Linked DNA regions of Homo sapiens. The protein of the gene in region 1 interacts with the protein of each later gene in a biochemical or structural test. Each region holds a gene or a part of one and is shown in the gene's direction. Other genes may lie near its edges.

Region 1 (3,972 bases):
TGCTGTTCAGGTATAGAAAAAGTTAGACAATAATAATAAGATGTAGGATTTATTATTTATTCTTTATGTTTCTATATACTTTCATGTTTTTTGGCGAGTAAGTAGTGGAGGGGGTTACTATAAAATGTTCTCCTTTGAAAGTAAAGGACATTAGGGGAGTGAACAGGCAGAGCTGTATTTTATCAAACTCCATATTACCTATAGAAATAATTATGTTTTGAATGTCTTCACAAGTAGCATAGTTAATTGATTACCTCTTACCACACTGTCCTTCATAAAATCTTTATCACATTGTGAATTAATGAACCAGTGCATAGTAAGTATATTGTACCCACAGAATTAGAAGTTCAAGATTTAGATATTTCATTATTAAATTGTTTGGTTTGTTATTAGACCATTATTGAATGGCTTTGAAGATTGGAGACAAATCTTTTGTATTTTGTTTGCTTATGTATTACTTAGTTTGAAATAGAATTTTAGGAATACAGTGTTTACCTTTCTGAATCTCTTGTTCCTTTAAGACGTAATATTTTTAAAAAATTACCTGTGATTACATTCTTATTATACTCTTTTCCATTTTCTTATTTTTTATTCCTATTTCTTTATGTTCTGATTCCTGCAGAACCTGCACCAAATAAAGCAAATTCAATCTCTGAGGGAGTTAAATGAGCGACTGCTGACTGAGAATAGGGCCTTGACAAGAGTGGTAGCCAAGCGCTCAGGGTTCTATAGGCAACTGCAGTCTGTGAACCTATAATTTTTAGTTTCATCATTTCTTCTTGGTAGAGCCAGGCAGGTGTTTTTATATTAGTAGGCGTGTTTTGTAAGAGCTCACTTTTACAAATTAATGCCATTGTGTCTGGAGCATATCATATAACTAATTATGCATGGCTTCTTAGAATGTTAGAAATTGTCACTAATTGTATATTGCAATTGATGAGCTACATTAAAATTAGGGATGATTTTGGAATTTAAGTTAAAGACTTATCTGTACTTTTGTAAAGCTTTTGCACATTTTTTAGCTATACAGATATTTTAGGACTTAAAATATGACTATTATTTACAGTTCTTTACTAGAGAGAAAACCAACAGTATATAACATTTTACATATAATTAATATATTTTGAAGCTGAAGATTAAGCATGCATTATGTTTTTCAAAATAATGTCATTTGAAGTCAGAACCACATTAGTTTATATTTAAGTTTATATTACAAATATTCAAATGAATAAACTTAATATTACTATATTTTATATCTTAAAGATTCTGAACACAGATAAGAACATATTGGTTCCACGTAAAATTAAATCTTCTTAAAGATTTTGCTTTACCTAGTTTTGCAAATAGAAGTTTTACTTTTATCAAGTTAGATAAACTAATACATTTTGAAAACTGAGGAAAGAGGACTATTTTGGAAAGTATGGTTTAGGGACCAAAAATATGAGCTATTTCATTTCCTAGTGAAACTGGCAAAGAACATACAGTTTTAATCATCCTTAGTAGAGTATTCAGTTAACTTGTAATATTTTCACCCCTTCATCAATTTGTCTGTAAAACAACAGAAAATTGAGATGTGTTGTTTGAAGATATGAGGCTATTTGCTTCAAAATTGGTTATTTTTGTAATAGTTGGATCATAGATACAGACTTTCTACTTTAGCTTAAACATGATGCACTATTCTAATAATAGTAATTGCTTGTTACCATTTAATAAGCATCTATCTGGGATCGGACATTGTTTAGGCATTTTAAACTGAGCTACTGTAGGTGAATCGTTTAAGGAATTTTAATAATTTAGAACAAGTCTAATTTCCTCAATGTTTTCCTAGGTAGTTTGACTTTCTTGTGGAACAATATTAAGTATTATGATTTTAGGTCTGACATACATAAAAGCAAAAGTCTTTGGTTTAGGTGCTGACAGGAACCTCTTTTAAGAGCCTATCCTAACAAAAACAGGCTTGTCTTGGCTGCTGGAATGTGGTGTGCTTGTGAGTCATAAAATCAAGTGATTTAGTAAATTTCAATGGAAAATTTGGAGAGAATAAACCTTTCATTCCAGCATTTATGAAACTAATTAGCTTTACAAATCCAGGTGTGGTTTTTTTCCTTCTTCCTGATACATGTTTTAGATACTAGAAATATATATAACTGACAAAGCTTGATCATGTGTTTTGTGGTGAAAATATAACATTTATTAAGAATAATGTTTTATCTTTTAATATTGAAGGTAAAACTTGATCTTCAATTTTTCTCTTTATAGATGTTACCAGACCTAAAAGCAGACAACCAGAGGCTAAAGGATGAAAATGGGGCCTTGATCAGAGTTATAAGCAAACTTTCCAAATAAAAAAAAAAAAAGCAGCAAGTAATGGAATTGCACATATTAGTAACCCAGTGGACCATAATTGGCAGTCACTGGAAGTCTGGGAAGAATCCTTGGAGACTGTCATTTTCGGATATCCTGCCAAATGCCCTCTTATCTAGAATTTTTGTTTCATTTTGTTTAATTTTCTGGGGTGTTTTTGTTGTTGTTGGTTTGTTTTTTGTTTTTTTTTTTTAATCAAGACCATTGTTTCATGTTAATGCAGCTGCTGAGAAGATTTTTTTTTAATGACTGAGAAAACTTGTTTACAGCTCCAGCATATAAGGAAAGTGTTCAAGGCCAGATATGCCTCAGATATTTAACCAGTAAGCCTTAGTTGTACATAAATACTTTTGTGTCAACAAAAACTTTCAGCTCTCACAGAAGACAGTTACTCAACATTTTTTGATGTGCCACAGTTTCGAGTTTTTCGATATTTAAATTTTTTGGCTTTTCATCTAAGTTTGGGTTTGTATTTTTTCCTTCTAAACTCTTCATGTGGCAGAGTCTTCTATGTTTTCACAGCTTTTTCATTACAGAAAAGAACACTTGCTCTTCTGTGATTATTGTCATGTATTAGGCTAATGCTGTGTTGTCTCCCACCTGGAACTGAATTGCTTGGTGGAACATATGCTTTCACTGTTTGTGCAATATGCATTTATTTCTTATATGAATGCTTTAAAGTCATTTGAGGTTAGATCTTTTAATTCCTATTTTCTGCTTCATTGGTCACTTTTTTTTTATTGTAGTATAAGATGTTAGATTCTGTAATCTTCACATTCATTTTAGCAGGTACTGAGTGATGCTGTATATACAAATAAGTGTATTGTTTTGATTTTTAGACCACCACATGGCATGCTTGACTATTTCTTATTTCAAATGTCTGCTAATGCAGAGTAGGCTACTCCATGATAGTGTTAAAAAACAAAATTTGCTAACAATGTGATATAAAGACTTTAAAAGTTACACATTATGTGGAGCCCTATCTTTACAAAAGTTTCCTACTGTAAAGTGCTTTTATTTTCAGTTTTCACTTGATAGTACTCAACCATAATTAAAGTTGCATAAGATAATTGCTTTACATTTCACATACCTATATTTATCTGAGTGCTGTCTAAAACTGTTGTGCTAGCCAAAGTAATGCTATGAAATCATTTGCAGAATTAACCCGTGAGTTAATGTTAAATGCACTGTTATTGCCATGTGAAGAGGCATCGACTTTGATACCACCATCATGTTCAGACCATTTTATACATTTCAGTGGCCTTTTTTTTTTTTTAAGGAAAAAAAAGCGCAAAACCAAGTACATAGTGACGATGGCTTTTATTTGGACAAATAGCTTTTATATTTTCATTAAACCATGCAAAAAATACTACATCTTTCTGGCACATAACTGTCTCCTTAACCACTGAACAGTTCAGCCATTTGAATAAATTGTACATTGTAAAGCTTATAGTAGCTGATTGTATTATTGATTGTATTGTATACTATATTAAATGTGAATTTGTACCCCTTCATTTTAAAAGGTCATTGTGTTCTACTGCCTATTTTAGATTACTTTGGGGTTGGGGAAGGGTGTTTTGGTAAGCAGGATTTTAAGTCCTCTCTCTC
Region 2 (3,600 bases), on another chromosome or scaffold:
TTTTAGCTTGATGAAATCCCAGTTGTCTGTTTTTGCTTTAGTTGCCTGTGCTTTTGAGGTCTTACGTAAAAACCCTGTGCCCAAAAAACCTGTGCCCAAGATGAGTGTCCTGGAGCACTTCCCCAGTGTTTTCTTCTAGTAGTTTTATAGGTTTTGGGACTGGATTTCTGTCTACAGTCCTGGAGTTTTGCTGCCCTCACTTTGGTTTTTCACTCACTTCTCTGCATGGCTTTCCAATAGCAATAGCTCCCAGATAGCAAGCATGGGTGGGTGGGGGGAGTATTACATGCGTCACTTCACTTAATCCTCATGGTCTGTCTACTTATTTTCAGATGAGAAAACAGGTTTAGAGAAGTTGTGATCTACCTAAAGTCATGCACAGTTTCACTCAAGTGTCTGACTCCAGATCCGCTTGCCTCTAATCTCTCATAGTAACTTGTTGACACATTTTCTCCAGTTGTCCTGTCTTGCTTAAAAAGCTGTGGGGAAGACTCAGCCTGGCTCAGGTAGTATTAGACCAGCAGTCCCTGGTGTGGCATACTCAGTTTTGGCATTGCCTTCCTGGTATGTTTTAAAGAAAACTCATCAGAACCTTTGTATCTTTTTTATTTTCCTTGAGACAGGGTCTCGCTCTGTCACCCAGGCTGGAGTGCAGGCTCGATCACGGCTCACTGCAGCCTCAACCTCCTGGACTCAAGTGATCCTCCCACCTCAGCTTCCCAAGTAGCTGGGACTACAGGTGCACACCACCATGCCCTGCTAATTTTTTGTATTTTCTGTAGATACTGGATTTCACCATGGTGCCCAGGCTGGTCTTGAATTCCTGGGCTCAAGCAATCTACCTGCGTTGGCCTCCCAAAGTGCTGGGATTACAGACATGAACCACCACACCTGGCAGAACCTTTGTATCTTGAAAGCTGTGTAAATACAATCAGTGTGGGTATCTTAGTCCCTCCTTATCAGCGGTAGTAGTTTCACTTACCAATGGTCAGCTGCGATCTGAAACTATTAAGTGGAAAATTCATAAGAAATAGTCAATTCATGGCTGGGCATGGTGGCTCAGGCCTGTAATCCTAGCAGTTTGGGAGGCTGAGGTGGACCTGAGGATCACCTGAGGTCTGCAGTTTGAGACCAGGCTGGCCAATACGGTGAAAACCCTGTCTCTACTAAAAAAAATATACAAATTAGCCGGGCATGGTGGTGTGCGCCTGTAATCCCAACTACTTGGAAGGCTGAAGCAGGAGAATTGCTTGAACCCAGGAGGTGGAGGTTGCAATGAGCCAAAATTGTGCCACTGCACTCCAGCCTGGGTGACTGAGACTCCGTTTCAAAAAAAAAAAAAAAAAGAAATAATCAGTTCATAAGTCTTAAATTACATGGTTTTGCAGTGCTTGTGTTCATGTCACCCTTATATTTAATAATGGCCCCAAAGCAAAAGATGCTGGCAATTTGGATATTGTAAAGAGAAGCTGTAAAGTGTTTCCTTTTACTGAAAAGGTGAAAGATCTCAATTTAATATGGAAATAAAAAAATTTGTATGCTGAGGCTGCTAACGTCTATGGTAAGAACTAATCTTCTATTTGTGAAATTGTGAAGAAGGAAAAAGAAAGTTGTGCATAATTTATATAGGGTTCTGTACTATGCGAGGTTTCAGGCATCCACTGGGGGGTCTTGGATCTTATCCCCCTCTGATGGTGGGGACTACTATAGTGTTGTTTCCTATGTTCTCCTAGAGTAGTAGCCTGAGTTTGGGGAGGAAGAGAATGCCCTCCTCTCCCTCCCTTTTTTTTGTTAATCCGATTAGGTCAGCAGTGGATGTTACTTTGATTTTACTGGTGGTTCTGTTATCAGAGTCTTGGTTTGTTTTCTGTTCTTTGGAGATAGGGTCTCACTCTGCCACCCAGGCTGGTATGTAAGTGGTATGATCATAGCTCACTGCAGCCTTCAACTCCTGGGCTCAAGTGATCCTCCCACCTCACCTTCCTGAGTAGCTGAGCCCACAGCTGCATGCCATCATGTCTAATTTTCTTATTTTTTGTACGGGGGGCGGGGGGGGTCCCACTATGTTGGCCAGGCTGGTATTGAACTCGTGGCCTCAAGTGGTCCTCTTGCCTTGGCCTCCCAAAGTGCTGGGATTACAGGTATGAGCCACTGCACCCAGCCTGTTATGACAGTCTAACTGTCTATCAGGTTAATTCTAAGACAAGGGTGGAAGCCTCTGTTACGGTCTCCAGTTTATAAAAGAATGGTTCCTGCAAGATTACATCAAGGCCGGAAGGCCATTTAGGATGCTGAAAAGATAAGCCCTATGGTTATTTAGCATCACAAAGGGATAGGTGGAGTTGTTAAGAGCTGTCTTCCTTTGTGTTCTGCCTCATTAAGTCACTGGGTCCTTAGGTGTCAGGGAATATAGATTGAACGAACAGGTGTGTTTCACTTTAGGAGCAAGCCTGGGGGAAAAGGGGTACCAGTGACATTTTATGTAAATGGACCCTTTGGAGTAATGCAGCAGGTTATTGTACAATTTCTTTTTGACTTTTATATCAAGCCACCTGATTTTTTGTCTTCTTTTGCTTTCCAAAGTACACAGATGCTCCTCAACTTTCAATGGCATTATGTCTAAATAAAACCATTCTAAGTTGAAAATATTGTTAAATTGAAATTACATTTAATACACCTAAGATACCAAACGTCATAGTTTAGCCTAGCCTCCTTTAAACATGCTCAGAACACTTATGTCAGGGTACAGTTGGGCAAAATTATCTAACACAAAGATTATTGTTATTATTTTTTGTAGAGGTGGGGTCTCAAACACCTGCCCTCAAGCAATCCTCCTACCTCCACCACCCGAAATATTGGGTTTACAGTTGTGAGTCACTGCACCTGGCCTATTTTATTTTATTTTAAAATTTTATTTATTTAATTAATTAATTTTTTTGAGACAGGGTTTCACTCCTGTCACCCAGGCTGGAGTGCAGTGGCGCGATCTCAGCTCAGTGCAACCTCTGCCTCCTGGGCTCGAGCAATTCTCCTGCTTCAGCCTCCTGAGTAGCTGGAACTACAGGCGCCTGCCACCACACCCGGCTAATTTTTGTATTTTTAGTGGACACGGGGTTTGACTGTGTTGGCCAGGCTGGTCTTGAACTCCTGATCTCAGGTGATCTACCTGCCTTGACCCCCCAGAGTTCTGGGATTATAGGTGTGAGCCACTGCACCTGGCCACCTGGCCTATTTTATAATAAGGTGTTAAATATCTCATGTAATTACTTGAATACTGTACTGAAGGTGAAAACCAGAATGGTTATGTGAGGACTTGGAGAAGTAAGTGTCTACTGATTGCTTTCACAGAAAGTCTAAACATTGTTAAATAGAAGCATTGTTAAATTGAGGACTGTATATATGAGTTTTTTTTTTTGAAACGGAGTCTTGCACTGTTGCCCAGGCTGGAGTGCAGTGGTGCAATCTTGGTTCACTGCAACCTCTGCCTCCCGGGCTCAAGCGATTCTCCTGCCTCAGCCTCCCGAGTAGCTGAGAATACAGGTGCCCGCCACCACGCCTGGCTAATTTTTTGTATTTTTAGTAGAGACGGAGTTTCACTAT

Evidence for each region. The genes of interacting proteins can lie anywhere in the genome.
Region 2: the proteins of PPP1R12A (region 1) and CHEK2 form a complex in vitro, tested with the Homo sapiens proteins (one study listed by BioGRID).

The regions. Positions count from the first base shown.
Region 1 is NC_000012.12:79,774,303-79,778,274, reverse strand, and holds part of PPP1R12A (protein phosphatase 1 regulatory subunit 12A), read left to right. Parts: intron 1-2,259; coding exon 2,260-2,346; 3' UTR 2,347-3,972. UniProt on the Homo sapiens protein: Key regulator of protein phosphatase 1C (PPP1C). Mediates binding to myosin. As part of the PPP1C complex, involved in dephosphorylation of PLK1. Capable of inhibiting HIF1AN-dependent suppression of HIF1A activity.
Region 2 is NC_000022.11:28,735,221-28,738,820, reverse strand, and holds part of CHEK2 (serine/threonine-protein kinase Chk2), read left to right. Parts: exon of another isoform or gene 1-1,537; coding exon of another isoform or gene 1,538-1,561; intron 1,562-3,600. UniProt on the Homo sapiens protein: Serine/threonine-protein kinase which is required for checkpoint-mediated cell cycle arrest, activation of DNA repair and apoptosis in response to the presence of DNA double-strand breaks.